4 linked regions of the Homo sapiens genome follow. The protein of the gene in region 1 purifies or fractionates together with the protein of each later gene. This does not show direct contact. Each region holds a gene or a part of one and is shown in the gene's direction. Other genes may lie near its edges.

Region 1 (8,179 bases):
AAGAAAATAATGCTCGAAATGTTAATGCATTTTCCTTAAATCAACTGTCCCATTCCTACACTAGAGGAAATGCCCCTGTTGTTGGTAAACCGACGGTGATTTATTTTAATAGCTTCACAATGTGCATCTGTCTTTTTTTTAATATCGTAGGTTTCCATTTAATTACGCAGCTGAAAGGCATGAGTGTGGTGCTGGTGCTACTTCCTACACTGCTGCTTGTTATGCTCACGGGTGCTCAGAGAGCTTGCCCAAAGAACTGCAGATGTGATGGCAAAATTGTGTACTGTGAGTCTCATGCTTTCGCAGATATCCCTGAGAACATTTCTGGAGGGTCACAAGGCTTATCATTAAGGTTCAACAGCATTCAGAAGCTCAAATCCAATCAGTTTGCCGGCCTTAACCAGCTTATATGGCTTTATCTTGACCATAATTACATTAGCTCAGTGGATGAAGATGCATTTCAAGGGATCCGTAGACTGAAAGAATTAATTCTAAGCTCCAACAAAATTACTTATCTGCACAATAAAACATTTCACCCAGTTCCCAATCTCCGCAATCTGGACCTCTCCTACAATAAGCTTCAGACATTGCAATCTGAACAATTTAAAGGCCTTCGGAAACTCATCATTTTGCACTTGAGATCTAACTCACTAAAGACTGTGCCCATAAGAGTTTTTCAAGACTGTCGGAATCTTGATTTTTTGGATTTGGGTTACAATCGTCTTCGAAGCTTGTCCCGAAATGCATTTGCTGGCCTCTTGAAGTTAAAGGAGCTCCACCTGGAGCACAACCAGTTTTCCAAGATCAACTTTGCTCATTTTCCACGTCTCTTCAACCTCCGCTCAATTTACTTACAATGGAACAGGATTCGCTCCATTAGCCAAGGTTTGACATGGACTTGGAGTTCCTTACACAACTTGGATTTATCAGGGAATGACATCCAAGGAATTGAGCCGGGCACATTTAAATGCCTCCCCAATTTACAAAAATTGAATTTGGATTCCAACAAGCTCACCAATATCTCACAGGAAACTGTCAATGCGTGGATATCATTAATATCCATCACATTGTCTGGAAATATGTGGGAATGCAGTCGGAGCATTTGTCCTTTATTTTATTGGCTTAAGAATTTCAAAGGAAATAAGGAAAGCACCATGATATGTGCGGGACCTAAGCACATCCAGGGTGAAAAGGTTAGTGATGCAGTGGAAACATATAATATCTGTTCTGAAGTCCAGGTGGTCAACACAGAAAGATCACACCTGGTGCCCCAAACTCCCCAGAAACCTCTGATTATCCCTAGACCTACCATCTTCAAACCTGACGTCACCCAATCCACCTTTGAAACACCAAGCCCTTCCCCAGGGTTTCAGATTCCTGGCGCAGAGCAAGAGTATGAGCATGTTTCATTTCACAAAATTATTGCCGGGAGTGTGGCTCTCTTTCTCTCAGTGGCCATGATCCTCTTGGTGATCTATGTGTCTTGGAAACGCTACCCAGCCAGCATGAAACAACTCCAGCAACACTCTCTTATGAAGAGGCGGCGGAAAAAGGCCAGAGAGTCTGAAAGACAAATGAATTCCCCTTTACAGGAGTATTATGTGGACTACAAGCCTACAAACTCTGAGACCATGGATATATCGGTTAATGGATCTGGGCCCTGCACATATACCATCTCTGGCTCCAGGGAATGTGAGGTATGAACCATGATCCTCCTAAAAGCATTTCTACTGCGGGGAAGGAGAGGTAAATGTTTGAAGCCCTAGAGGTGTCTCTAATCACTAGAAAGATTAATGACCCTTTTGCTTTTGGGTTTTGCTCAGTGTGAAAGGTTACTTAATTAAATTACAACCACCAGGAAATTGACTGCTTTTTTTTTTTTTTTAAATGGTTGAAACTTGAAGGAAGTTCATTCAAGGATAAGTTGGAATAAAGCACTATGTTAAAACATCTGCTTTTTAACAATTTGTATACAGGGGTTGGACTTAAAAACACACATACAAACAAAACTCTTTTCATTCTGAAATTTCTGTCTGGTTCTTGGTGTTTGACTGTTGTAATGGAGTAAAGAAGAGGGCCAGCTTAATTTAAAAATAAAGTGAGTTTACCAAAATTCCAGAAGGTAATGAAGATTTAAACCAAAGAGCAATTTTCCCAAGGGTTGATTTTGTTGTAAATTTTTAGTTTTAATGAAAGCATGCAACAGGGATCTCACACCCATGTTACTTGCCATTTAGTTATTATACCAGCATAGAGAATGTCAGAGGCCTACTGTGTAATTGTATCAGGCTCCTAAGGCTTCTTTCTTTTTTTTTTTTTGTTTCCTTCTTTCCTACTTTCTTTCACTCCTTCCTTTCCTTCCTTTCTCTTCCTTCTTTTTTTGTTTGTTTGTTTGTTTTTTAATTACTGGGATATAGATCCGATTTCAAAGGTTTTTATGCACTGGCTATTTGTGTTTAATCAGAATGAAACTTCAATTCCATGCTTTGGCTTTGTCCCTGGTAACTAAAATCAGGTCACAATTTTGTGGATGATTTAGCAATAATAAAATGGCAGTCATAACAGGGACTGTTTGTCAGTATTGCTGTCATCCCCAAAAGAAATGATATGTATTCTTGTTAAACTTATTAAAAAATAAGTGATACAAATATTTATAAATAAAAGGAGAGAGGTTTGAGTTCTGGGTATCCTCCCTTTCTGTAACAGCCTCAAATAAAGGTGTACCTTCCATGTTATATTATTTTTGTTTTTATAAGAATAAATTTGGACCCGGTTTCTGATTATTTAATTTAAAAGATCACTTACAGGATCATGTTAGTGAGCAGACAAATAGTCACAAATTTCAAACTTGTCAATAAGTAATGCTGGATGTAAATTGTTCTTTTCTTGGTAATGTTGATCATTATGTGCAAAGACTGACTACTAAGGCCTTGTTGCTGGAAGAAACTAGTGAAGAGAGGTTAAATTCTGGCAATATAATGTTTTAGTATCTGATTTTAGATGATCACTCTTTCAAAAGACAGTTTTAATGAGTAATTAAAGATGTTGCCCTTTCTAATGCTAGTTAACAGTTGGAAAATATAATTGCTCTTTGATAGCATATACTCCAATTTTTCCATAGTCCTAACTACAAATGCTAATGAAAATGTTTTCAGACAAAGCACTGAATTTGAAATAATCTCTAACTCAGTACAATTTGGACTATTGAACTGTTCTTCAAAGAATTCATTTTCTTCTTTTTTGTGTATCATTGAAAATAAGAGAAGTAATCCCAGATAATAAATTCCTAAAAGGAAACTGTATAAGCAATTGCCCTTAAAAATTAAAAAGAATAAAAGATTTTCTATAAAAGTCTAACAAGGCTTGATGTTTTTATTGCAGGCCCACAATTATACAATATACTTGAGTATTAGTAACACAAGTTCATCCTATTTTATTCTGGGTTCTCCTTATATTTTGTGATCCTCTTAAAGGCTGGTATATAAAAAGAAAAGAAAATTCTAGACGCATTAATTCATTTTCTCTTGACTTTTGGAGTAGAATGCTAACTTTTATGTTTAAGAATCACCAAGAAGAAAGAAACATTCTTAAAGAACCAGGATTTGAGAACTGGGGTTCTAAGACTTTTCCAGAGATCTTAAATTTCACAGATTATTCCATCAAAAACCCTAGGCATTACCATGACAGAAACAAGTTTAAAAGATGGTTCATTTAATTAAAACGTGTGTTTAAATAAACACATTTTGATATTGTATGTGTTATATAGATTGACATTTAATGTCATGAAATTGCACTAGTATTGTTGAAAATGAATGTGTTGTTAAGGCATTAAGTAATGAAGAATGTAATTAAATATTGTAATAATTCTGTTGAGTCAAAATGGAATCCTTACTAAAGTAGCTCAAACTTTCTGTGCCCTCAAACATGGACATTAGTAGGCTATACATTTAAGATCATATGTCCATTTAGGATGAGGAGGGGGGTGCTATAAAACTATATTTAAATGAATTTCAACTTGTTTTAAAACGAAAGCATACAAAAACAAACATTGCAGGGGTCACCCCATTTTTTGACAGAATGTTTGCTGTATTACAGTTATAGGTAGATATAAATGGTGAGGAAAAGCAAACTCTTAGAAATTGTTATAGGGAAAACCCTAATTACTTCTTACTTCTTTGTCACTCGGAGTAAAATTTCTCCTGTTGAGAAATATTCCTTTGGACAAAATCTCTCTACAAAATAGAGCCAAGAGAGGGCAGCGATTTGCCCAACTTTACAATGTTTTTGGAATAGTATAAGTATGCTGAGTTTTAGCTTGGCATTGTTTTCATAAGTCTCATATATCACTAGTTTAGCAGAGAACCATTAATATATTTATAAGACATTTTTGTGAGGTAGGTTTTTTTAAAAAAAAATTAAAAACACCAAACTCTACCCAATAAAGCCATAAATATTTAATTGGAAAACTTAGCACCAAATGCTAATTTTCTAAGATAGTGCCTTGAAGAAATAAAAATTGCATTAAATTAAAAACTCTACTTTCCACCTAACTTTATATTCAGTTACCATGACCTAAATATGGTTACAATATCCATTTTGCTTGTTTCTTTTAAAAGGATTTTTTAAATTGAGATTATTAGATTGGCGTTTGTGAGCCTCCACACAAATATAGCATGCAATTTTCAAATTAAATAATTTTCTCTATGTTTTGCAAGTTTTAATTCTGAAAAGTCTGTGTGCACATACCATTCTGATAAAATGAGGGATAATATTTTAATAATTTGGGCAGTAAAAATTGTTCATATCTATAAAAGAGAAATAGAGTAGATAGTTATGAGTAATTAATATGAATTATAGCACAAGTATAAGGGATACATACATCCTAATCATACTTTGAGTGGATCAGTGTGCTTGGTTGAACTGAATCATTCACTTAGTACATACATCCTCAGTATGTACTCAGAAAAGAGAATTTAAAGCCAAAAGGATACAGCTTTTCCTAAAACAGTAAGGTGTTACTATATAGACAGGAAATGCAAATATTTACTTTGAAAAATAGCTTGTGAAGCTTGGCATAATGTTATCTCATTAAAAAATATGACCAGGGATATAAAGTTGCTTCATTCTGTATATCAATTTTTTCCTTCGAAATTGTAAAGAACAAAGTTTTGAATATCTAGTTCTTCTAGGATTTGTTTTATCAACTGAAAGTAGCAGCGGCCTTTATATATTAGCCAATGTGAACAAAGGACAAGAAAGAATATTTGTAGTTTGTTTTGTACATTAAAAAAAGTTAAATTGGTGAAAATTTAAAATGAATGAATGTAGTCTCTAAAGAGACTCTCCATCCAAAGTGTTTCAATAGTTAAGTAATTGAAATATAAAGTTTAATGATCCTATAGTGCTAACAGTGCTGCTATTAGGAAAATGGCAGTAAAGGTGACAATATAGGTGTATATTTTCCAAATATTTAATATTTTCATTACTTTCTTCAAAATTGAGCAAAATTTTAAAAATATACTGGTTTTCAGTTCAGGTTATATAATTTCTTTGACTGTTATGCAGTGGGTGGTATAAACCATTTCTAACAACTTTTATTTATGGACTATGTTAGGTCAGGTTCAAACAACTGGTATAAAGTAGACCACTTAACTTCTTTTCACACTTTAGATATTGATATTCTTCAGTGTGCTAAGTGAATTTCCAAGGACTACTAAGCATAATGTATATATAAAGAGGACTCTAAGGAAAGCAGACCCAGTTACCTTGAGTTTAATTAACAGTTTATCGACATACAGCTATAGAAAACAAACTTTATTTAGGTGGCTGACTACAACTGTGTCATGGTACAATGTTATGATTGAAACTGTATTTGTATATTTAAATAGGATGTGTGTGTGTTTGTATGTGAGTTTATCCATGTATGTATGTCTGTATATATATATGTGTGTGTGTGTTTGTGTGTGTGCATATAAAGACAAAATAGAAACATATTTCCATCAGAATTAATGTCCATCAAAATTAATTAAATTTTTTTACGACAATTTAAATTATTAGTAACAAATATTTGTTAAAATCACCAAGATTTTTTAGTTAGGAATATGGCCCTTAAGGTAAATGTATTATCATATCTGAAAAATTATAAGTATCGTCAGGTGCAGTGGCTCATGCCTGTAATCCCAGTAATTTGGGAGGCCAAAGTGGGTGGATTACTTGAGGTCAAGAGTTTTAGACCAGTCTGACCAACATGGTGAAAACCTGTCTCTACTGAAAATACAAAAATTAGCAGGTCATGGTGGCGCACAGCTATAATCTCAGTTACTAGGGAGGTTGAGGCAAGAGAATCGCTTGAACCCAGGAGGCAGAGGTTGCAGTGCAAGATTGCACTACTGCAGTCCTGCCTGGGCAACAGAACAAGACTCATCTCAAAATAAACAAATAAAATATAAATTATAAGTATCTTACATCTATGTAGTCTAAAATTCTTTTTCAAAAAACAAAATTTAACATAGTCAAGTCTGTATTTGTACTACATATTGCCATTTTTTGTGTTGCTTTAGACTTGTCACTTCGTTTCTCTGTGACGCATCTCTCAAACGAGTGACTCAGCTAGCACAGTGTTTCCCAACACAAAGCAATTCTCGGATTAGTATAAAGTTTGTAAAGTCTCTATGGTCATTCTCAGAACTGAAAAAGCAGGATGAGCTGTGGAGAAAAAGACTGAGCTACTTACATTCATTTGTCAATGAGAAAAGAAAGAACTTCTTCAGTTACTAAAAACTGGGGTGCCCAGGTGAGCAGCCATACAATTTCTTTATGCTTGAGGGGAAAATATGTAACTCACGCATACACATGTGTGAGCACATGAGTGCACACTCCCACACACGTATATGTCTTTGAAATTCTGCTAAGTAACTAGATATTTTGAAAGCACTTAAAACTATGTCTGCTTTTTAAAAAATCGATTGTCTGAATTAGGTCCAATTAAAATCTATTTGTGAATAGAGTTTTCATTAGAATTCACAAATGGTAGTGGTGAAGAGTGACAGCTGCCAAAAAAAGACCGACATAGCTAATTTAGGAAAGATTTTAAACTGACAATAAATGGCCCTTTTCTTTTTCTAGAATTAGCTGGTATTAGCATCTCACGGACAAGGTTTTCATAAATGATTGCTCTTGAAGACTCCCAGCTGAGAAGTCTGTGGTCTTAGGAATGTGTAGCTTTTGACACACCCCAATAATATCCACAGGATACCAGAATTTCCTTCTTGAGACTTTTCTGTGTTTATAAAATGTAATCATCCCTAGTTCTTCTCAGGAATTGCATTTAGAGATAGTTTTATGCTTTAGGAGTTGCTCAGTAATATTTTCACTGGGGACTTGGTGACTCATCTGAATTTTCATGTCTCTAGAGTTTCATGATTCACTAAATCAAAGTGAAGCAGAAGCAACCTGTATATCACTAGACACTGAGAGTTTTGAAAAACCAGTATGTCTTTTGATCAGTGAAAAGCATGAAGTGATGTTGAATACATTTTAAAAATTAAAATTGCTTTTTATAGTACCAGAAGAACCATCATTCATTGAGTCAGTTTAATAAAATCTCAATATTCATGAAAGGAAAAAGAAATTACAGGGCTATTTTTCTCATGCACTCCATAAGCCATTAAAATTGTAACTGTAAGGTAGGAAAGGTTGAGAAAAAAAGCACAGTATTTCCTAAGGTATCAAAACAATTGGCTTTTTAAATAAACGTCTGCTAGAAGCTGCTAGATATGTACAAAGACTATGTATTTAAACTCCTGCTAAAGAGTTTAAAAATAATGCTATCACTGCCAAGAGAAATTAAAATCTAAACAAACGTAACCATGGAAAATTAGTCCTTTACAAGGGAGGCCAGGTAATATGGTACACCTGTAGTCCCAGCTACTTGTGAGGCTAACGTAGGAAGATCGCTGAAGGCCAAAAGTTCGAGGTTGTCCTGAGCTATGTTTGAGCCTATGAATAGCCTCTGTGCTCCAACCTGGGCAAAACTAAGACGCTGTCTCTTAAACATACAAATAAAAATATATGAAAGCTAACACCTTAAGTTTACTTACGTAAGGTTTGTAAACATAGGTTTGAGGAATGAAATGACAGCAAAGTCATTTGATTTAAGGTCATAAAGTTTGACCTTAAG
Region 2 (8,179 bases), about 16 Mb from region 1:
TGGAGTGCAGTGGCGCAATCTCGGCTTACTGCAAGCTCTGCCTCCCGGGTTCACACCATTCTCCTGCCTCAGCCTCCCGAGTAGCTGGGACTACAGGCGCTCACCACCACGCCTGGCTAATTTTTTGTATTTTTAGTAGAGATGGGGTTTCACCATATTAGCCAGGATGATCTCGAGCTCCTGACCTCGTGATCCGCCCGCCTTGGCCTCCCAAAATGCTGGGATTACAGGCATGAGCCACCGCACCCAGCCGCCAAATGGCTTTTTTAAATCGTAAATTACTTTTCTTGATTGAAGTTTTATGCAAAAATTGATCAGGATGATACCTACATGCCAGGTTTTTATATTTGAAACACATAACAAACTGAGCCTTAAAAATTCTGACTAAGCAGACTAGTATATAGGTAAAGAAATATCTAGAAAATGGAGTATTGTGCACAAAGTTTAATTTGGAAATAAATTTGTAAAATAAACTAAAATTAATTTTAGAAACCCTAACTTTGTTTGCTTTGACAATACAATGGAAATTATCAAGTTATAGTTAGAATAGGGGGAGACAAATAATGGTTGTCCTGAAAAGAACCCAAACTCAGACATTAGAGAGTCTTGAGGAGGTTCCATAGTGAATGTTAGGAGCATTATTAGCCTGTGAATCTGATTGGCTGGATTTGAATCCCAGCTCTGGCCACTAGCTGTGTAAGCTGAGATAGTCCCATTGTTGTAAGCCTGAGTGAAAGTGGGGATAATAAATGCAATGCCTGCCACATAAAGTTATGACGTCAAATAGTATACATTTGGTAAAGGCTCACAATTCTTATTATAGTTATTACTATTATTGTTTTACCATTATCATTATCATCATCATTGTTTCTCAAGGCAAAATCTAGCCTCCACCTCTTTATCTGTGTGACCTTGGTCTTTGCTTCTCCAAGATTCAGATTTTCCAGAGCACTGTTACCTCCATCCAGGGTCATTGTGAGGATTAAATGAGAAGTTTATACAGCACCTAGGTCAATGCTTTGTTGATAGTAACTGCTTTTACAGGTTAGCGCAACTAATAAGTCACTAACTCCTCAGCATTATAACATAGGCTTAATAAGTTTAACACCAAGTTCTTTCCTTGGGTGTAAGTTTAGCCTTAAAAGACTTCTAAAGATTTTCCAAAGTTAATGTTCTGTAATTAGCATATATGTAATCAAATAGGACTTTTATGTATATCTCATTCTTTCTTTATAACTTAAATATATATTATCTGGTTACAATTTAACACCCAGTTCTTTCCTTTGGTGTAAGGTTAGCCTTAGAAGACTTTTAAAGATTTTCCAAAGTTAATGTTCTATAATTAGCATATATGTAATCTTATATATTGAACTTTTATGTATATCTATTTCTTTCTTTATAACAAGTATATTTTACCATATCTGTATGTTATTACAAAGTAAATTATCATTATTTTTCAATTAAGAAGAAAACTAAGACTGTAGAACATTGAATGATTTGACCTCCTCAGGTACCTTTTGGTAGGTCTTCTGACTGCAAATGCTGGGTTCCCTCTGTTAAATCATACTACTTCCTGAGAAGAAATAAAAGATAAAGTGGGAAAATTCTGCATCTTAGGCAAGCTAAAGAAAAGTGGTTTAAAAATTATTGCCACTTCAAAAATAACAATGGCAGAATAGAAGGTATCTATTTTTATCACCTCTTGGGATCTTTTTGTGGGGCCAAGGGGAAAGCAGAAAGATACTAAAAGAGATGTTCATGTCCCTTTTTATTCATTTTAATTATTAAAGGGAACAGTGGCTTTGTGATTAATGACTGCTGTTCAGTCTATTTTATATCTTACAAGGATCTGACAGTTTTGTTTTACATTTTATAGCTGCAGCTTATCTTCTGGTGTCCCTTATACCAAGCAATTCATTCCGTCAGATGTTCCGGTCAACAAGGTCTTTGCACATCCCAACCCGTGACCTTCCACTCAGTCCAGACACAACAGTAGTCCTACATCAGGTCTACAACGTGCTCCTTGGTTTGCTCTCAAGAGCCAAACTTTATGTTGATGCTGCTGTTCATGGCACTACAAAGCTAGTGCCCTATTTTAGCTTTATGACTTACTGTTTAATTTCCAAAACTGAGAAGCTGATGTTTTCCACATATTTCATGGATTTGTGGAACCTTTTCCAGCCTAAACTTTCTGAGCCAGCAATAGCTACAAATCACAATAAACAGGCTTTGCTTTCATTTTGGTACAATGTCTGTGCTGACTGTCCAGAGAATATCCGCCTTATTGTTCAGAACCCAGTGGTAACCAAGAACATTGCCTTCAATTACATCCTTGCTGACCATGATGATCAGGATGTGGTGCTTTTTAACCGTGGGATGCTGCCAGCGTACTATGGCATTCTGAGGCTCTGCTGTGAGCAGTCTCCTGCATTCACACGACAACTGGCTTCTCACCAGAACATCCAGTGGGCCTTTAAGAATCTTACACCACATGCCAGCCAATACCCTGGAGTGAGTAAAATTGATACTCTTTTATCTGTATCCTCAAATAGATTGGAAATACCTGTTTTTCCCCTGGTGGGAAGTGGTGGCAGAATATAGAATAGTCTCACCATTCTTTCTTAAGAACTTAATGTGTATTTGTTTTCTTAAATACATATATAAAATGCTGTGTTGTTATAAAATTGATAACTGTGTAGATAACTTTTCTTAGGGTGAAGTTAAAGTTGCATATCCAGTAAAACTTACCTGTTTTTTAATTTGTGGTTTTGTAAATGTATTCTTCATGTGTGCCTAATGAAAAAAGCCAGCTTCATGGTACAGTTTTAAGGAATTGAGTACTTTGCTATTTAAAAATCAGATACTTAGCAAAATCTACATGCTGTGGTAAACTGTGAGCTAGACAATTTTATATCTAAAACTAGTAGTATTCCGCAGTATTTTTTCTCAAGCTGCATCCAAACAAATGAAATGCTTAAGAGATCAATCGAGATACATATATATGCAGTCTAAATTGGGTCCCTTTTACTCTGCACACTTACTTGTAGGTTTTATATTAAGTTTCCTCCCCTCGATGTAAAGCTGTCAAACCTGGTTAATAACTTTTCACTGTTGCCTCTTATTCTCTGTTGTAAACTGTACTTTAAAGACAGACCGTCCTTTATAGACGGTCTTTTTTTTTCTAGATGGTGTAATGAGTTGTATAGAATCTCACACCTGGGAAGAATAACCTAATTTCTAGTCAGAGAAAATTAGAATCCCAGGCCGGCATAGTGGCTCACACCTGTAATTTCAGCACTTTGGAGGCAGAGGCGGATCACTCGAGCCCAGCAGTTCAAGACCAGCCTGGGCAACATGGCAAAACTCCATCTCTACAAAAAATACAAAATTAGCTGGGAGTAGTGGTGTGCACCTATAGTCGCAGCTGCTTGGGAGGCTGAGGTGGGAGGATCGCTTGAGCCCAGGAGGTTGAGGCTGCATTGAGACATTGTACTGCACCCTGGGCAACAAAGCAAGACTCTGTCTCAAAAGAAAAAATCAGAATCCCTACAATGCAGGAAAGAGAGTGAGTGTACAAGTACCAAGAAATTGAAAACCAATGCCATAAGAATACAAAATATCAATCTTTCTGACTTCAAAGGGGTCGGGATAGGATTTATTAAGTTTCAGTAAATTTGTCTCTATCATATTCACATAAATAATATTTGATCTAGTTACTAGATGTGATGTCCAGAATTAAATATACTTTGACAAGTACTAGATGAGTTAGAATTTATCCCTCCATGTTATTTATTGCCCTTGACATCAGTGAAATGTAATGTCTTTTATTGTAGAATGTCCTTATCTATTAGAAATTTTCATGAAAATGGTACTTAAGTCAGTTTTTTGCTTTGAAAAATAAGAAGCTGGGGGTTTCAGTTCATTGACAAGTATGTGTTAGAAGAGCAGTCCTCTCCTGACATGTGCATATGAGTCTATAAAATCACAGCTAGTGATTTTACTAAAATATTTGTTTTTACTTTTTATTCATCAGGAAATTGAACTGAGCATCATTCTAGAAAAGCATTTTAAATGTTGGAACAAAGGTTTACCTCATATACACTATTAATTTAAGGGTTATTTAGGCATTTAAAATCTTTGTGACAAAGTAATGATTTCTCATTAATTAAAGAAAAAGTGGATAGGAGATGGTGTGGCATGCCTCTGGGTTTACATTTGAAGTTACAAAAGTAGTGCTTTAAGCAGTAATAAGACTAAAAATGAATTGTATTCACTTACAGTTTTTACTCTTTCTAAACTTGTATTTTAAGATTTGTTGAGTTCTTTTAGTGTTTATTATTATTGTTATTATTTGTATTTTAGTAGAGACAGAGTTTCATCATGTTGCCCTGGCTGGTCTCGAACTCCTGAGTTCAGGCAATCTGCCCGCCTCTGCCTCCCAAAGTGCTAGGCATCAGCCACTGCGCCCAGCCAAAATTTTTTAAATAGAATTTGTTACTGATTTTATAACTTTCTGAATGGAAGTATAATCTAGCTTATTTGTATAATTTTAAGAGTTGATTAATGAACGTAGAAATGAGAAACTGACCTTCTAAAATGCTATAGGGTTAAAAGATCATATGGCTTATTTGGCTTTTTTAGGCAGTAGAAGAACTGTTTAACCTGATGCAGCTGTTTATAGCTCAGAGGCCAGATATGAGAGAAGAAGAATTAGAAGATATTAAACAGTTCAAGAAAACAACCATAAGTTGTTACTTACGTTGCTTAGATGGCCGCTCCTGCTGGACTACTTTAATAAGGTAAAAAGATGTTTTTAGTTTTGTCTTGTTTATTTCCAGTGAGATGAGGACCATCCTTTTGATGTTTAAAGATAAATCATTTACATTGGGGAAGCATTTGTGCATGTAGCCACTTTGGAACATTTTGAAGGTTCATGAACTACTTTTAAACAGTTTTTGGTCTGGCTTTGGTTTGTATTTGTGTATGTTTTATCATTTTAGGGTTGAAGGGAACCTTTATGTATAGCCTTCTACCCAAAGCTTGAATAGTCTTGTTTATGGCAATTTATCCTAACTCAGGCTTGATAGTTCAGTTCTAGAGGCCTCCAGGAAGTTTTCTGCACCTTTGGATGAGTCTGTTAATATTTTGCATTCTGTTTAGCCCAAATATATCTATCTGGCTTTCTGATCTATATGACTTGGCCAAAATTATAAAACATAGTCTTTATAATTAATTTTCAGAGCTACAGAAGTTATTGAATGGTTACAGGAACTACTACAAATTACCCTTAATTCCCCTTAACCTAGAGAAATAAAGTTCAGGCTAATTTCTTAAATTCTTCTATGTATTACATCTAAGACTTGGAAGTGTTGTTTTTTATTAGGCACATTTTTTTTAATGGTACTTTACTGAAGACTTCACTGTAATATCTTAAGCTACTCAATCTAAGATGAGGTTATTTCAGATTGTCTTCTTTGGAAAGCTTTCAAATGTGAGTCTTCATTAGTAAACAGGGAAATTAACTACGCCTTTGCCGGATTTCTTAAAGGGATTGTTTTTAAATTTTGGATTAATTTTGAATACAATTGTTTTCCCAAAGTTTACTACTTAAAGCTTTATTTCAAAAAAGATTTAGAGCAGCCTGGGCAACATAGTAAAACCCCATCTCTATATAAATAAATAAGTTAGCAAATAAATTAGGGTGTGACGGCATGCACCTGTAGTCCCAGCTCCTCGGGGGGCTGAGGTGGGAAGATCCTTGAGCCCAAAAGGTGGAAGCTGCAGTGAGCCATGATTGTGCCATTGTACTCCAGCCTGGGTGACAGAGCGAGTCTCAAAAAAAGAAAAAAAAGATTTGGAGCTTTCTTAACTCTTCTTGAAAAAGGAAAGGAATAAAGTAGAAGGATTTCCAGTTGTAGTCTATAACAACATTTTTCTGGTATCTAATGAAAGAAGACCTGTTAACAGTAATATAGCTGTGTGAGTAATTATAGTCATGTGTTGCATAACAACAGGGTTACATTCTGAGAAATAAATTTTTAGCCTATTTCATCATTGTGCAAACATCAGAGTGACTACTCACACACAACTAGATAGTAGCGCCTGCTACACCCCTAGGATATATGGTATAGCCAACTGTTCCTAGGCTCTAAATCTGTATAGCATGTTACTACACTGAATACTGTAGGCAATTATAACAGAAAGGTAAGTATTTGTGTATCTAAACGTATTTAAACATAGAAAAGGTACAGTAAAAATATGGAATAAAAGACAGAAAATGGTACACTTGTGTAGGGCACTTACCATGAATGGTGCTTGCAAGACTGGAAATTGCCCTAGGTAAGCCAGTGAATGAGTGGTGAGGGAATGTGAAGGCCTGGGACATTATTGTACCCTACTATAGACTTTATAAACACTGTACACTTAAGCTACACTAAATTTATTTTAAAATACTTTTTCTTCATTATTAATGTACTGAACTTTTTTTACTTTATAAGTTTTTTTAACTTCTTGATTCTTCTATCGTAGCACTTAAAACACACTATCATAACACTTAAAACACACATTTTATAGCTGAACAAAAGTATTTATATCTTTATAAGCTTTTCATATTTAAATTTTTTTTCTTTTTAAATGTTTTCGTTAAAAACTAAGACATAAACACACACAATTAGGCTAGGCCTAGCAGGGTTGGGATCATCAGTATCTCTGTCTCCCACCTCCACATCTTGTCCCACTTGGGAGGTCTTCAGAGGCAGTAACTAGCTTAGAGCTGTCATCTCCTCTGACAATGATGCCTTCTTCTGGAATCCCTCCTGTAGGGCCTGTCTAAGGCTGTTTTACATTTAACTTTTTTTGAAATAAGTAGTAAAATAATGATAATATAGTAAATACATAAACCAGTAACATAGTCATTTATTAACATTATCAAGTATTAGGTACTGTACATAATTGTGGTATACTTACAAGACTGGCAGTACAACAAGTTTGTTTATACCAGCGTCATCAGAGACATGTGGGTAATGCATTGTGAATGTTACCATGGCTATGAAGTCACTAGGCTAATAGGAATTTATCAGCTCCATTATAATCTTATGGGACCACCATTGTGTTTGTGATCCATCATTTACCACAATTTCATTTTGTGGCACATGACTGTATTTTATAAACTATTTTCAAGGCTGACACGTTTTTAGTATTTTTTTCCTTCATGTTACTCTTTTTTAATTACCAGCTGATGAGTGTTTAGATAATATGGTGAATTTTATGATTATCCAGAATTTAACAATCAGAAGATGAGCCTATTATAAAAATCAACATTGTTTATGTGGAAACTTTAAAAATATTCCCATATCTTCTGCCATTGTAGATAATTAGCAGTTGATTAGATATTAATAGACTTTTTTTTAGTTAGAGTTTATTTAATATTATTTCCTTATGCTGCATTTCCAGGAAACAGATGAAGCAGTCTCTTTTCTGTAGGTAGGAAAGCAGAGAGCTTAAATGATGATTTTATTTCTTTTTATTTTTTCATCACCTAAGTGTTGTGTTCTTATTCAGACTTCTCAAACTGAACTTTATGTTTTCTTCTAGTGCCTTCAGAATACTATTAGAATCTGATGAAGACAGACTTCTTGTTGTATTTAATCGAGGATTGATTCTAATGACAGAGGTAAATATTCTATTGCATTTTACTGTGGATATTATCTCATTTTAATGTTCTCACCAAGACTTACTTTATAGACATTTAGAGTTTATGGTAAACTGTTTTACAGGTGGCAAGGTTTTAATTATATAGATCAGTAAACCTGAATTTATATCCCAAGAATAATTAGGTCATAATTTTTAGGGTGCTGTTCCTTTTTCCATAGTAATTCCATACTTTTCCCATTATTTTGTATTTAGAACAGCCATTTGAAATAGACTAGTTTTATTCATTTGTAGGGACAAAAATGAAATACATGTGATTTCATTAAGGGCACACATAATTTCCCAAAAGCCTACTTATTTGACAGTATAGAAACTGAGGTTACCATTGTGAACCCGGAAAATCTGAGACAGGTCTCAGTTAATTTAGAAAGTTTATTTTGCCAAGGTTGAGGACGCGCCCGTGACACAGCCTCAGGAAGTCCTGATGGCACGTGCCCAAGGTGGTTGGGACACAGCTTGATTTTATACA
Region 3 (8,179 bases), on another chromosome or scaffold:
GAGATCCTGTCACCATACTCCAGCCTGGGCGACGGAGCGAGACTCCGTCTCAAAAAAAAAAAAAAATTGCACAAAATATTTTAAATTCCCTGCTCTCCAGAAACTTACATTCTACCAGGGATAGACCAACAGTTAAAAAAACAAGTAGATTGTATAGTATGTTAACAAGTAATACATGCTGTGATTAAAAAAAAAAAAAAAAAAAAGGTGGTGGGGAATGGTGTTGGAAGTGCCAAGAGCTAGGGTGAAGGCCCTAAACTGGGAGCATGCCTGGGACGTTTGGAGGAACAGTAAGGCATGGCCAGAGCAGATCAGGCAAGAGGGTGAGCAGCAAGAGGTGAGAGAGGCAGGCGACGGGGACAGTTGTGGAGGGGCAGTCATGAAAGGATGGTTGTATTGGGCTGTGCAGACTGTTGTAGGGACTTCGGCTTTTTCTCTGAGTAAAATGGGGAGCCACTGCAGGGTTTCAGGCCAAAAAGGAGCTTGCTCTCATTTAGGTTTTAATATAATCATTCTAGATGCTGTGTTTTGCAAAGTTTGTTTGCTGGGGGCAGGGTGGAGGGGCAGTAGAAGCAAGGTAACGAGTAGTCCAGGAGAGAAGGGTGGGTCAGACCAGGGTAGCTACAGGATTTCTTGATGGCTTAGATGTTTAGGATATGAGAAAAAAAGAGAAGTCAAGGATTACTCCAGGATTTAGGCTGTTGAGATGGTTAGGGCAATTTATTGCCTACACTAAATATTTTCTTTTCTTTCTTTTTTTTTTTCTCTCTTTTCCCTCAGTGTCAAGCTATCAACTTGTGTTTGTTATTGCTGTTATTGTATCTGCTTCTAGTTTCGCTCACCTATTTTAGGATATATTACTTTTGTTTAAATCTTCTGTGGGCCAAAAAACACAAAAGTTTTAAAAATTGTATATTTAAAATAAGATTGTTGGTTTAACATAGGGCCTCTGAGTGAGAGTTTGTGTTGTTGTATTTAGGAGTAAAGTGAATCAGCCTTAATGCCAGGACTTCTAACAGTTGCATTCCCTGTGGAGGCCTTAAGCTTGCTTTTGAATTCAGTTATGTTGTTAATGATTAAGTTTGCCAGAACTCTAAATCTCTGAATGAGAATTCATTTATATTTACTTTATTTGTTTAAACAGGCAAAAGAATGGACCCCAGCAGGAAAAGCAAAGCAAGAGAATTCTGCTAAGAAGTTTTATTCTGAATCTGAGGAAGAGGAGGACTCTTCTGATAGTAGCAGTGACAGTGGTGGGTTTTATAATTTATTGGCATATATTATTTACATAGTAGATTACATTCTATATCTCAGAAACAAGGCCTAATCCATAATATTCAGCAGGTAGTTTTAAGTGAAGTTTGTATTATCAAAATAATCCCTTTCATTTATATATCACTCTTTAGTTTTCAAAGTAATTTTTAATTACTAAATTCTCTTTTTACTTTACAATATCTCTTGGATAGTAGCTGATACATTGGTATAGCTGAAACAGGAACTCATACTTTTCTGAATTCTAAACCACAATGCCTAATATATCTATTGAAAAACATAATTTTACACTTGATGAACTTTTAGTGGGGTCTTTAAAAGTAACTTTCTTTTACAAAAACGTAAAGTTTATTTTATACCTTGAAGAGTCTTTTTCTCTTTCATTTTATACTTATCTCTTTCTGTGAACCTCTATAGAGATAAAGCTAAAATTATTAAGTCTCTATATACTATAAAAAAATCAAACTAAAGGTTGAGGGTAACTATATGCAGTGAAAAGAATGCTTAATAGGAAGGATTTAGAGGCCCTGGCTTTTACCTATGCAAATTGAATAAGGCACCTACTTTTCTCTATATCAGATAAATGAAGGGGTACAGTTAAATATTTCTTAAAGTCCCTTCATTGCTAAAATTCTGTGAGTGATTTGCATAATGAAAAATAGATTGTAGTCACTTTCTGATGCTCTTATTAACACTTAAGCTAATAGGCAAATCTGACCCAAGACCAAACGACACCCAACTTTCTCTAAAATCTTTATTCCTTGGAGAACCAGGGCCTGTCACTCTTACATGGTTATCTGCTACCCTACTGTAAGGTAATTCACTCTTCTTTTCTCTGTCTTCCTTATCAAAAATCTTTGTTTTTAGTATCTGATAAATTAATCTGTGATACATTACCTGTAATTTCTTTCATTGTTTATAGCATAAGCCAGTTATCTGACTTAATATGTATGTGCGTGTAACTTGGATATTACCACAAATCTAAAATGTCCTTATTTAGTAGCTTTATTTTAGTAAAATAAACTTTCCTGTTTGTAAATGATGATAATGATGAGTGCCTTACCCTGTGGCAGACCCTGTTGTGTTCTAATCTCCTTTGTATGTTTCAAATCATTTAATCTTCACAACAGCTCTGAAAAGTAACTAGTGTTATCCCCATTTGCTGAAAAGGAAACCAAAACCCAGAGAAGTTGAATAACTTGTTCAGTTTTACAACTGGCAAGTAGAAGAGCCAGGATCTGAATCCGAACACTAACTTGAGAACCCATGCTTGTACCCCTTGTAAGCCGTCTTAAAACAATACAGGCAGTCCTAGGTTTTCACTGTGATGGACCTTCCTGATGTTGGTATTATTTAACCATTAGAATGTTTAATTAAAGGTTATGTTCCTGCCTAAGAGGGCTTCGTTACATAGATCACAGGCAGGGCAACAGTTTGTCCTTTTGTCTGGGACACAACTCTGTAGTTATAGTCATTTTAAATAGTAAAAATTATGCTTCACTTAAAAAATACACATATATTCTTCATGTATTCTCTTCTGCGAACAGTCCTAGCATACCATAATTTACACATAAAACATTTAAAAGTATAATTCCTCAGTGTAACTTGATCATCTCTTTGACCTATGGAAAACTCGTTTACTAGCTCGAATAAGTAATAACTCTTTAATTAGTCATTTTGCCTATTGTCTTTGAATTTGGAGGTCTTTCCAAGTGATTTGAATGGCTCATTTTCCTCTCAAAATTTGTTCCTAAGAAGATTCAACTGTTGCCTTCTTTTACTCTAAATAGAATTTCCCATTACAAGCAGAAGAATTCAAAATTATTTCTTTAGCCTTACATCAATCCTTACGTAATTCTTTAAAAGAAAGTTTTTGACATAGCTATATACTTTGGGGTTTGAAGTGAGATTCCCTCAAATTTGGTTTACTTGGTTCACCTTTGCTTAGCTTTTCTCTCCTCGTTGTCAGAGCATCCTCTGTCTGCCTCCCTCCAAGCTCACAGTGCTAAAGGAATCCATAGAGCTGAAAGAATGGGGTGTGGGAATAAAATGTTAAACAAGTGGTGTCCACTGAACTAAAATTCAACATCTGGTTTCATTTGTGATGAATATTGACAGTTACAGGTGTCCGTGTGTCTAATTAAATGACTATAAATCTAAGAACATCTGGTTCTGTTTTTCAGAGAGTGAATCTGGAAGTGAAAGTGGAGAACAAGGCGAAAGTGGGGAGGAAGGAGACAGCAATGAGGACAGCAGTGAGGACTCCTCCAGTGAGCAGGACAGTGAGAGTGGACGGGAGTCAGGCCTAGAAAACAAAAGAACAGCCAAGAGGAACTCAAAAGCCAAAGGAAAAAGGTAACTTATTTTGTCAGAATTTCCTTCAAAAAATATTCTGTGAAAGTTTGCCCCAGGCAGAGATGTTTCTTATTAATCAAAAAATGGTGAGAGAAAAAAAGTGTGTATTTTTTTCCAGATATTAAATCTTTTTAAAATTAAAGTGCTAGTTGTTCACATTATTTTCCTACTTGTAATGCTTAGCTTTCATTTTGAACTTGAACATATCTTGGGGTTACATTTTGAAAATTGGTATAACCTTGGAAGGCTGAGTTAAGTGATCAAGCAATAGGTATGAAACACTTAATTACCTTTTGTAGCGATTTTGCTGAGGGCTAAAATTAAATCCTTCAACACTTTGCCATTATGTAACCAAGACAATTGATTTTTCTAAATAATGTTATATTAAAAAGATTATGATCCAAATATTAGAGTCAAGGGCTGTGAAGGAAGACGGTCATAAGATCTTTAAGTGTTAGCACTTTTTAAGATCTCCCATTATCAATAACATTATCATGTATTAAAGTGTCATTAAAATTTTGAGTAATTGGGTCTAATATCTTGGATTGTGCAACTCTGTTTTCCCCGCTGCTGTCAGCGAGTGGCCTCTGCCGACATGATGGTCCTTTCCCCGGGAGCCTGCTGCCCGCTCACTTGATGAGCTTGCAGCCCGGCTCAGTCGTGGCTGACAGCACTGATTGGGGCGCAGTACGCTCTCTGCTCCTTTTATTACAGACAGTAATTAAAGCAGCTCTCCCTGCCACTTCCATAACAAACACAGCATAATGCCCTAATTATGACTTTATTAATTTAAGTCAGGATTTAATGATTTTAAAAGTGATTTATATTGTTTTTCCTGTTCAGAACAAATGAAATCTGTAGGTTAAATTAATACAGGCTTTTCATCATTGCAAAGTTAAAAACCTAGTTACCAGTAAATTCTTTTCATTAGATTAACATCTGAAACTCTAAGCAGTAAGGTAAACAATAATTACCATCAAAATTGAGTGATGCATAATAAAATAACACTTTTACTTTTAAAATCTTATCTTAAAAGCTAGAAGTTGAATATATTTAGAATCATTCACTTGTTGCAGCAAAGGAGCTACTTGGTTTATAATAGCCTTGTCTTTGAGAGAAATCCTGTACTTCTGCTTTAATATCAGCATGTCTATGATGATACGAGTTATAAAACATGTCCTGTTTCTAGAAAGGGAAAGTTTTGTTCAGTGCATGAAATGTCCTTTCAGATGGCAAAAGTCAGTATACTCAAAATTTGTAGTCATGTATTAGGTTTATTATTCTTTTCTTCAGAAATGGATTTTTCTCTTTACCCATGTTTGAATTTAAAAGAATTGTTTATTACAAAGAGAACCACAAATACATTCTAAACCTTATATTTTTAAGTACACATTTTAACCAGTGAATTGGGGATAATAAATTGCCATTTTTTTGCCAGGGAAAAACAACAACATATTTTTCAGTCTTCAAATATAATTACATGTGCTCTGAGATGTTACCATGGCTCCATTTTTAATAAATAGCAATCATATTTCCTCCACAAAAATCAATTCTAGGAAATATTGATTCTTTCCTTGTCTCACTCCTCTCCCTCCCCCTGTATTTTTCTGTCTCAGAATTTTTTTTAACTTTGCCAGTATGATAATTTTTTAAAGCTCCTAATAAGCTTTAAACATCTTCAAAAACCACCCTTTAGTAATCATAAATATTTATGACCAAATTTAAATTTTACACTCCAAGGTATTTTCATTTGAAGGGAGATAGTATGACATAGTGGAAAAAATACGGACTTTGGAATGAGACAGGCTTGAGTTCAGATTCTAGTTCTGCCCCTCTTGTTATGTGCCCTTGAGCAGGTTATTTAACCTTTCTAAATATTAATTTCATTATTGTAAATGGGATAATAATGTACCCAGGAAGAGTGCATTTAAATTAGATAATTAGTATGATTGGTATGAAGTGCCTAGCCCTTTCTGGCCCACAGTAGATTCTTAAAAAAATACACACACATGTGGTAGAGAGAACTAGACCTTTAGTTTCCAGGAAAATATAAAGCACCACAAGGCATTTGTCATCCCCTGAGAGAAGGGTGTTTGGTCATCTCACATGTTATTCCTTCTCCTTGGAGAACTGTTTCCCTGCCCATCTGCCAGCCTTACTCCTATATCTTGGCTTATATGTCTCTTTCTCCAGGAAGCATTCCTAATTGGATCAAGTTTTTTTAGGTGTCTCTCCACATGTTCTCCTGACACGCTATAATTTATTACTTATTACTTATTATACTGTATTATCACTGCAACCTTATCTGTATCCTCCAGTGGACCGTAGACCCTGTAGGGTAGACACACAGAGATCCTCTGTGTCTTACTAACCATCGTTATCCTTAGCACCTAGCATAATGCCAACATGTAGTCAATAATTAATAAATATTTGTTGAGCAGGTGAACAAATGAATGGTGTTAAGCACTTAGGTATGATCATTTGATATTTTAAAAGTTTATATTTGATTAGCTTAAATTTTTAGCAAGATAGTACTTTAGAAGAATTTCCTTTGAACTGGTTAACATTTTCTCATAGAATGTGTTTAAGGTCACATTTGGGAACTTGTGTAAGTAATTTTCTTGGGTAGAAAATGTATAAAATACAAGTCTATTTTAGCAGAAGTAGATATATAAATATTTAAATATATTACTAAACCAGGTGTGGTGGCTCAAGCCTATAATCCCAATATTTTGGGAGGTCAAGTTGGGAGGACTACTCGAGCCCAGAAGTTCCAGACCAGCCTAGGCAACCTAGTGAGACCCTGTCTCTACAAAAAATATAAAATTAGCTGGATGTGGTGGTGCATGCCTGTAGTCCCAACTACTTGGGAGGCTGAAATGGGAGCATCGCTTGAGCCCGGGAGGTCAAGGCTGCAGTGAGCCGTGATTGCACCACTGTACAATGAGACCCTGTCTCATATACGTATATATATACGTATATATACATGAATATATATGTATATACGTATATATATACATGTATGTATACATACATACACACACACACACACACACACACACACACAGGCACAGTATTTTGAGATAGCGTTTTAAAAAATCAGCCTAAATATCTTTAACGTTGTTACTGGTAGTACTTAATTCTTGGTAAATCAAACATTTAATGTTTTCTACATTGCTTTTGATTATATTGTTTAGTGTCATTTTATGACTTTTTGCATTTGAAATTTGTATGACAGGATAGAATTGAATTTGAATGGGTTCTAATTTATTTGGTTATGGGTAATACCTTTTTTATTACCTCATTAATGTATTCTGGAATTTAAAAACAATTTTTTTATAAACTGCTTATATAAAGGAGTTAAAGTTCATATTTCAAAATTTACTATTATGTGTAGTGATTCTGAAGATGGGGAGAAGGAAAATGAAAAATCTAAAACTTCAGATTCTTCAAATGACGAATCTAGTTCAATAGAAGACAGTTCTTCCGATTCTGAATCAGAGTCAGAACCTGAAAGTGAATCTGAATCCAGAAGAGTCACTAAGGTAAGAGATTATACATTTGTTGTAATTGAAGGTAAATATTCTTATAGCAACTAAAATAGACAACACCATCCTCATCTACTCCTGTGATTTTATTTTTTCTAGATAAGCCTTTCCCTTATAACCCAACTCTGCAGAAATGCTAGAAACTTTAAAAAATCTCATCCCTTGCCACTGAAATCAAGGAACTCTTACGCATATGACCTTTTTTGTTCTTGGCTAGGTTGTGACAAGGGGGGGGTTTTGCTGAAGGGGAAGTGAAAGGAAGTCACAAAAATAGTATTGAGCAAAGAATTATAAGTGTACATACATCATAAGAAATTGAGACTATTCACTTTTTAAAAATATTGGGCATTTTGCATAATAGAGTGTGTTTTAAGGCTTCAATTAAAGAGTATACATTCTTTAGTTAGTAAGAATTTGCGTAGCCATTTATTTAAAAACAAATGGAACCACTTATATAATAAAATAATAATGCTTTTTGGTAATAACATTTTTAACACTGAATTTTGCCTGCTTAGCAGGAAAAAAATAAAGTATAAATTGCAAAAATATAGTTATTAATATAAAATGTATTCTATCTGATTTCAAGTCTAGTTAAAAGAATAAAAATATAGAATTCAGACCTAACGATAATTATCTTTTTGGTCTTTAATAATCACCCCCTTCCTATAACTGGACCATGTTCATGCTAGACTTCAAGTATAGTATTTTTATATACAACTGTGTTATTCTGTTTGTTGAAAATATGGCCAAACTCTGCCTTTGATTCAGTTCAATTTCTTCTTAATCCAATATTGTTTTCGTTTATTTGTTCTGTTAACTGGAATCTCTTCAATATGTTATCTGAGTAGGCAAGGATGAAAATTAATTTATTGAAGTAGACAATTGCCCTCCCCCATCCAGAGATTTATTGTTAAAGAATGTTTTAAAAATTGGCTAGTATTTGTCTTGCCTTATTTCACATTTTCTTGCATATATTAAAACCTATCTTAAACTTGAATTTATAT
Region 4 (8,179 bases), on another chromosome or scaffold:
ATAGCATACTCTATGTATGGAAGCTCAGCTTTCATAGCCTGTTCTGTTGCATGAGTCGCCATTTATGTGAATTAATTTTTTAATTTACAACTTAAAAAATGTCTTCACATCCATAGCATGCCCAGGCATTGCCCAGGAGTGTAGCCTCTGCTCCCTGCCAGTGTGGGCCTCTTAGACTATTGCAGACATGCTCGAAAGGAGTGGCTTTCCCTGTGGTTTCACTGAGGGCCATATCTAAGAAGATCTTCTTGTATTCTAATTATCCTTGGCTAGAGATGAGAAAATCTTAGTGTGGAGTGAGTTCTGGCGTTCTTTAACAAATATATTGCTGAAACAATAGCACTGTGACAAATCGTGACATGTAGCTTCTCTCCCCAAACCTACTACCCAAGAGCCTTTTGCTATAAGCAGCAGCCCCTGCCCTTCTGCCTCCTTACTCTGCTATTTTTTTTCCCTCAGCACTTTTTGTTACCTGTCTTACTATTTTCTGTCTCTCCTGCTGAAAATAAACTTCATGAGGACAGGAGGTTTTTTTTCCTGTGTGCTCCATTGCCTAAGTTTGTTTTGTTCACTATGTGTCCCTGGCCTGCATATTTGTGAATATGCAGTGAATATGAATGTGAATATGTAAGTGAATAAAAGAAAACAGCTCAGAAGCTGTGGCTTTGAGGATGGAAAAGAAGGGAACCATAGTTGATAAACTACCTAGCAGAAAGGACCTTAGTTCCTTTTAATATTTTGGGGTCAGACAGTGCAAGCTGTCGACAGCAGCTTAAGGAGATACATTAGAGTCTTCCTGGCAGTTCTTAGAATGCCTTGTGCTAGTGTTGAATGGGACCTCCAAATTCCTAGTGTGCTGCGTGTATGTCTGTTGAAGGAGCTCATCACTTGCACAAGGACCAGAATCACTTTTACTGCAGCATGGCCAGTTTTCTGGCCACTGTTCCTAGTTATACCTTTGATTCTTTTACACACACACTGTAGCTGCTGCCAAGGCAGGATCAAAGTCCAAATACTGCCCTCAAGGATGTGCTGACTTTAGCAATGCCAACCAAGTGAAGCAGCAGTGATGTCAATGTGGCAGAGAAAAGGGTTATGGGGAAATTGGGTGCAACTTTTTTTTTTTTTTTTTTGAGACAGAGTCTTGCTCTGTTGCCCAGGCTGAATGGAGTACAGTGGTGTGATCTTGGCTCACTGCAACCTCCACCTCCTGGGTTCAAGTGATTCTCATGCCTCAGCCTCCCAAGTAGCTGGGATTACAAATGCCTGCTACCATGCCTGGCTAATTTTTGTATTTTTAGTAGAGATGGGGTTTCACCATGTTGGCCAGGCTGGTCTCGAACTCCTGACCTGTAATGATCTGCCCACCTCGGCTTCCTGAAGAGCTGTGATAATAGGTGTAAGCCACCGCGACCGGCTGAGTGCATCTTGACCTTTAGAGAGAAGCTTCGCTTTTCAAATTTTTAAGAGGCTATTGTACATGCCAGAAAGTAGCTGATCAGTCAGAATATCACCATATATCTTTAGGAAAAATGTTAGTTTAGTTACTTGTGCGGTGCCTAGCATTGAGCAGTTGCTTGACTGTCATAATAATTCTGCTGTCTCTACTGTACTCTTGCATCTGGATAACTTTGTCTTTCTTACCTTTGGAGATTCAAGACAAGTTGAACAAGACCAAGGATGATATTAGCAAGAACATGTCATTCCTGAAAGTGGACAAAGAGTATGTGAAAGCTTTACCCTCCCAGGGTCTGAGCTCATCTGCTGTTTTGGAGAAACTTAAGGAGTACAGCTCTATGGGTATGATGCTTGGCATATACATGCTCTCTACTTCCTTAAAGAGACAGGTTTTGTCATTGTTTAATGTTCACATAGGTTAAGAATAACTCATCATTGGTTAATACATGTTTAGGAGGGCCTACTCTCTGTTTCACAGGTTGAATTTCCTATTTTTAAAATTATGTTTAGATTCATCCTTCATCCATAAAGCAAGCAAATCTCAGAGACAGTGGAACTTGGCTTTTATTTCCTTTTGTAAGCATGAATAAAACAAATATATTTGTGTTTAAGAAGAGAGAATATAAGATATGTAATACAAATGAAATACAGATCCATGTAAAAATGTGAAATCTGCATAAAGGCACAAAAGAAAATAAGTCACTATAATTCCACTATCAAAGATAAACAGATGGTGTCTATCTTTATGCATGTAGCTATAGGTAGAGCTGTCTATATAGTTTACATCTATCTATATATGTATATCTGTCTGTTTCTGAGAATGCTAATAGTGTTTGTCTGTGTGTATACACATGTATGCATGAGCACATATGGGATGGATAAATAGACCAAATAGCTTGGTGCTTAAGAGCGTAACCCTGGAACCAGCCTGGATTCATACCTTGGTTTGCCACTTAAAGTATGCCTTTGGCGAGTTACTTCTGTATGTCACAGTTCCTGTATCTCTACAATGGGGATAGTAATAGTAGTACAGTACTTACCTGAAAAGATGATTATGGGGATTAAATGAGATCATACATGTATAAATGTTTTATAGTGCCTGGCATATAGTAAGGATTCAGTAAATGTTAAACATTATTGCTATTATTAACTCAAACAGATTTATGTTTGTTACTGATTAAGATCATATTACAAGTACTTTTTAAAAAGAAGCTTTTTAGTTTGATATATTTACAGAAAAGTAGCAAAGATGATAGAGATTTCCCTATACCCAGCTTCTCCTGATGTTAACATCCTCTATAACCATGGTACGTTTATCAAAACTAAAAAATTAACATTGGTACAGTGCTATTAACTACACTACAAATTCTATTTCTAGTTCATCAGGGTTTTTTTTTGTTTTGCTATGTTTTGTTTTAAACTAATGTTCTTTTTTCTATTCTAGGAGCCAACCAGGAGCCATGTTGCATTTTGACAAATACCCTTATTTTTTATTTTTTGAGACAGAGTCTCACTGTGTTGCCCAGGCTGGAATGCAGTGGTGTGATCTCAGCTCACTGCAACTTCCACCTTCCAGGCTTAAGCAATTCTCGTGCCTCAGCCTCCCAAGTAGCTGAGATTACAGGCGTGCGGCACCATACCCAGCTAATTTTTTGTGTTTTTAGTAGAGATAAGATTTCACCATGTTGCCCAGGTTGGTCTCGAACTCCTGAACTCAGGTGATCTGCCCACCTTGGCCTCCCAAAGTGCTAGGATTACAGGTGTGAGCCACTGTGCTCGGCCTTGACAAATACCCTTACAATTTCTAAGTGACATGTGTTGAGGTCTTGACATTGAATAGTACAAAATTTGATATAGTCTAGGATGTAGATGAATAAAGCAGTGGTTAGCACTCTAAAACCTGGTGTTAAAGATTTCCATGATTATGAGACCTGGTTGCCGCCATCATATTGCCTTCTCTTTAATGTTTAAGTCACTGTCCATTGCTGTATTCTCTAGCATCAGTAAAAGAACAGGAAATGAAACCAGTTATCTTATTTTTGAAAGGCTGGTGACCACTGGTCTGAAGCTGTGTATAGTACAGAGCAGTGTCCTCTAAGGAAAGAGTGAAAGTCAAACGGGCAGCAAGCCAGAGCTTGGCAGATTGCTGTAAGAATGAGTTTGTCTGTATATTTACCACTTAGTTTTCTGTTCTCAAGAGCTGAAGATCTTTGCTTTGGAGAGCCCTTGGCTCCATGCAGTTTTTAGTTGGTGTGTTTCCGTAATAGCTTTCTCACTACCCACTTTCAATAGGGCACAGCTGCATTGTAGCACAAGGACCTGAGACACCCATATCAACAAATTTGTGGGTAAAATGAAGAATGTCTCGGGGAGAGAGGAAAGTGGAAAGTCAGATCTTATATTCTACTCAGGAACTTTACTTTTCTTTCCACACTGGGATAAAGGAGGTTTATCCCAATGTTGACTGTGTTCCTGATCTTGAATATGCTACAGCGTGTGCTGCTGGAAGCAGGTAACTAGTTTTATGTGGGTTTCCAGGCTTGGCTTAAGGGAGCCGGCGTCTGAGACCGGGGTGCTCATGGTTTATACCTCATTGTGGTTTGTTTGCTGGTTTCATCTCTGATGATAGTGTGCTGAAATTTCACACTTTTCATTTTGCTTTCTTCTGCCAACTCTGCTCATAATAGTTCTCAAAATTCCTAGGACTGGATAGGAAAGGAGAGAAGAAGGAAGCTATTGCAGAAAAAGGCCACTCCAAAGCCATATAGAGAACAAAAAATAAGTATAGACAAAGGCAAATGTTCCTGCTGTTAGAAGGCAGTTGAGGATGAGGACAACATTATTATCAGATTGCCTTTATTGTAGCTAAATGCTATTAATATCTTTTTCACATTGCTGATAATAATGATTTTTCATCTTTATTTTATTGTGCTAACTCTATTGAACTTTTTTCTTGATTTGCTATAAGAATGCTGTTGGGTTTCCACTCAACATTTTTTTCTTTTGTATCCAGAGGAGTTTCTTCCTGTTTCTTCTTTATCAGAACCTGTCTTCCCAGAGATTCTTGCTTACTGACCAGTGACCTTACCTTTCTCTGCAGACGCCTTCTGGCAAGAGGGGAGAGCCTCTGGAACAGTGTACAGTGGGGAGGAGAAGCTCACTGAGCTCCTTGTGAAGGTGAGTGTCCAGTTCTTGAGGGAAGCCTGTGAGGTCTGTGCCAGTTTACATGACCTCCTTTTTTTCCCTTACTTTTGTAATTAGAAAAATTACTTAAGGAAAGCTTATTGGTACAATAAAACCATAAAAGTTTCTCTTCACCCAAACATAGGCGAATATGTATAATATTATCAAAGACATCTTCAGTCTGTAAAATAGTAAAATGTTATTTATGTTTTCAGTCTTTGCAGATGTCCTGTCTAGAAGGCAGATTACTAGGGAAGGTAGTCCTGTCAGATGAGATTTTTGTGGTGAGACAGATTTTGTTTGATAAGAAGAGATAAGATAGGGAAACTCTTTCATAATTTTCTCAAATCATGTGACCCAAGATGAGCAGTGGTCTCATGTATACTTCAAATAATTCTCATTCTTAGCTTCTTCCATTTCTAATCAAATTTATTTTTATTTTATTTTATTATTTTTACAGACAAAGTCTCACTCTGTCACACAGGCTGGAGTGGAGTGGTGTAATCATGGCTCACTTCAGCCTTGACCTCTTTGGCTCAAGTGATCCTCCCACCTCAGCCTCCTGAGTAGTTGGGACTACAGGCGTGCATCATGACACCCAGCTAATTTTTGTATTTTTTTGTTGGAGATGGGGTCTCACTCTGTTGCCCAGGTTGGTCTTCAACTCCCAGCCTCAAGTGATCCTCCTGCCTTGGCCTCTGAAAGTGTTGAGATTACAGCTGTGAACCACTGCACTCGGCCCTCATATTTATTTTTGAAACTCCACTTCATCATATAAAATTGGGGTTGTACTGATGATCTCTAAGGTCTTTGTGTTTGATTATTATAAATATGAAACTGTCCCTTACTAAATAAATATGGCAGGTTTTGCATAAGTTGGTGTAATGCTCTGATCTTCTGTGCTTAAAATCTTTCAGTAGCTTCCCATTATCTACAGGATGAAACTCAGGTTCTTATGCAGCAGAGAATACAAGTTTCTTCATGAGCCAGCTCCCACTTATTTTTTCTTAACTACTTCTCTTCATTTCCCACATAAACACTAATCCTGCCTTTTCTCTTTACTAAATGTGTCATGCTTTTACGTTGTTTTCCTTCCCTTCCATCATTCCTCTTGTTCCAAATGATGATTCCTACTCATCTCTCAAAGTTCCACTCAGCAGACACCTCTAGATCACTCAGGATGTTAGTTGTTCCCTCTTCAGGGTCCCTTAGCACTCTGTACACACACCTGATATTGCAGTCGATAACAACAGCTGCTTTGTGCCAGACACTCTACTAAGTGCTTCACATGCATTATGTTATTTAATTATTGCTAGAACACTAGAAGATAGCTACCATAACAACTTCTGCGTATGAAGAAACAACCTTAGATTATGTGACCTACACAGCTGAAAGTAATAGGCAAAGCTTAGACTTCCTCCTGGGTCGGTTTGGTGTTATAGTCTGCGCTTTTAACCATATTTATACTTCTTTCCTCATCACATTGTAAAATTATTTATTTACATGTCTGTCTCCTCTGCTATGTTTTGATCTTTTGGTTGAGGAATATATCTTATCTTTTTTTCCAGTTTATATTGTTGTGCCTAATACTTAGAAACTGTTGTTTAGTGCATGATTCTTTGTCCTGTATAGTGTAATAGTTTTGATTTCACATCTGCTTGCATTTTTTTGCAGGCTTATGGAGATTTTGCATGGAGTAACCCCCTGCATCCAGATATCTTCCCAGGACTACGCAAGATAGAGGCAGAAATCGTGAGGATAGCTTGTTCCCTGTTCAATGGGGGACCAGATTCGTGTGGATGTGTAAGTATATGCAAGGGGCATCCAATAGCCTTATTTTTTAGGTTAAAATAGAAGAGTTTTTAATAAATATTAATTATATTTTAAAAAATAAAAAATATTAAAAATATTTTACTACACAAGAAATATTTGATCATTGTAGAAAGGTCATTTTACTACACAAGGAATATTTGATCATTGTAGAAAGATCCTAATTAACTGCAGTTTTAAATGTTACTTGTAATTTTGTAACCTAGACAATGTCAACATTTTGGTATATATTCTTCTAGATATTTTTATTTTCACCTTTTTATTTTGAAAAACTTTGAACCTACATTGAGTTGCTAGGATGGCTTAAAGAACACCTTAGATTCACTAAATGTAAATATGTTGCCATATCTGCTCTCTACACTCTTTCCCTCCCTACCCGCTTCTTCCCTCATCCCCCACCTGCATACCTACCATTCCCCTATTTATCTGTGTATACTTTTGTTGTTCCATCCAGCAGTGTTTTTAGTGTACTTCTGGTTTTACCTGAGCCAAAGTTTAATTTATTATTTTGCTGTAAACTGAACCTCATTTAGTTGCTATTAGGCATAAAGAAAGGGGGAGGACATCATTATATTTAAAGAAACACATGAGGATTCTTTGTTTTACCTGTTCTTTCAAGTAGATGGTTGTTAGTTTTCGTAAACTATGATAGATAAACTTCTGTTTAGATCTGTTGTCTTTAGAAAAAACGAAATCTCAGGTTATGTAGGATAGATAGATTTAACTCAATATGCTGCAATGGTGTCCTAGAGGTGCTAATCCTATCAGATACTCATCATATTTGCAGTCATTATAAAGACTGCAGATTTAATTATTGAAGGGCCCATTCGAAGAGCACCTAATTTAGTTTCTTTTTTTTTTTCCAGGAAGCATTGTTTTTGTTTTGTTTTTCTAATATGTTGGCGCCATGAAAATCATCATGTTCAAATATTAGTAGTAATAAAGGTGATATGCCTGGCATTCATTTTCAAAGCAAAATACTGAAACTGTTAAAAACAGAACCACCCATAATACAGCAGCAGTTTCCCTTAGAGTACTGAGGTGAACAGGGTGACTTTCAGAGGGAAGATGATAATGTACTTACAGTATATTCTCCTATGCCATTAGACTCTTGAAGAACTTGTAAGAGGCCAGAGTGAATAGCCACAGAACAGTTTGGCCTTATCTGGTAAATTTGAAGATACATATATCTTATGACCCAGAAATTCTGCTACTAGGACATACTCTAGAAAAATTAGTACACATATATATCAGGATATATGGACATTAATATTCATAGCAATGTTATTCATGATAGCTAAAAACTGGAAGTAATTCAAATGCCTATCCACAGGACACAGATGAATAAATTGTGGAATGCTGTGTGTGCCTCAATCCATTGTAGCTCTTATTCAGATTGATGTACAAATTGCCTCATCCATCTTTGGCCAGTGGAAACATCATATTGGCTCCTAGGTCCATTTACATGACCCAAGTAATCTTTGAAAGCCTTTTTTCTCTTTCTTTCCTTTTTTTTTTTTTTTTGACGAAATATTCCAGGTTCAGGTTCACTTTGTCCATTTCCTGCTCCAGGCCTTCAATCAGCCATTTATCCAAGGAGCCCTGGTTCATTTAAAACTAGGTAAAATAATTACATAGTTCCAAAATCACATTTATGGAACAAGACAGATTAAAAAAAAAAAGTTAACCAGAATGCAGTCCAGAGAGA

What was found.
Region 2: the proteins of LRRTM4 (region 1) and USP34 purify together in Homo sapiens (co-immunoprecipitation; 2 studies listed by BioGRID and IntAct, with this or other methods). This does not show direct contact.
Region 3: the proteins of LRRTM4 (region 1) and AP3B1 purify together in Homo sapiens (co-immunoprecipitation; 2 studies listed by BioGRID and IntAct, with this or other methods). This does not show direct contact.
Region 4: the proteins of LRRTM4 (region 1) and SGPL1 purify together in Homo sapiens (co-immunoprecipitation; 2 studies listed by BioGRID and IntAct, with this or other methods). This does not show direct contact.

Annotation. Positions count from the first base shown.
Region 1 is NC_000002.12:77,511,836-77,520,014, reverse strand, and holds part of LRRTM4 (leucine-rich repeat transmembrane neuronal protein 4 isoform a precursor), read left to right. Parts: intron 1-150; coding exon 151-1,697; coding exon of another isoform or gene 1,698-1,703; exon of another isoform or gene 1,704-3,357; intron 3,358-8,179. UniProt on the Homo sapiens protein: May play a role in the development and maintenance of the vertebrate nervous system. Exhibits strong synaptogenic activity, restricted to excitatory presynaptic differentiation.
Region 2 is NC_000002.12:61,208,392-61,216,570, reverse strand, and holds part of USP34 (ubiquitin carboxyl-terminal hydrolase 34), read left to right. Parts: intron 1-1,876; coding exon 1,877-2,511; intron 2,512-4,641; coding exon 4,642-4,799; intron 4,800-7,593; coding exon 7,594-7,672; intron 7,673-8,179. UniProt on the Homo sapiens protein: Ubiquitin hydrolase that can remove conjugated ubiquitin from AXIN1 and AXIN2, thereby acting as a regulator of Wnt signaling pathway.
Region 3 is NC_000005.10:78,109,200-78,117,378, reverse strand, and holds part of AP3B1 (AP-3 complex subunit beta-1), read left to right. Parts: intron 1-1,144; coding exon 1,145-1,253; intron 1,254-3,455; coding exon 3,456-3,627; intron 3,628-7,024; coding exon 7,025-7,172; intron 7,173-8,179. UniProt on the Homo sapiens protein: Subunit of non-clathrin- and clathrin-associated adaptor protein complex 3 (AP-3) that plays a role in protein sorting in the late-Golgi/trans-Golgi network (TGN) and/or endosomes.
Region 4 is NC_000010.11:70,853,056-70,861,234, forward strand, and holds part of SGPL1 (sphingosine-1-phosphate lyase 1), read left to right. Parts: intron 1-1,652; coding exon 1,653-1,800; intron 1,801-2,732; coding exon of another isoform or gene 2,733-2,765; intron 2,766-4,558; coding exon 4,559-4,635; intron 4,636-6,315; coding exon 6,316-6,444; intron 6,445-8,179. UniProt on the Homo sapiens protein: Cleaves phosphorylated sphingoid bases (PSBs), such as sphingosine-1-phosphate, into fatty aldehydes and phosphoethanolamine. Elevates stress-induced ceramide production and apoptosis.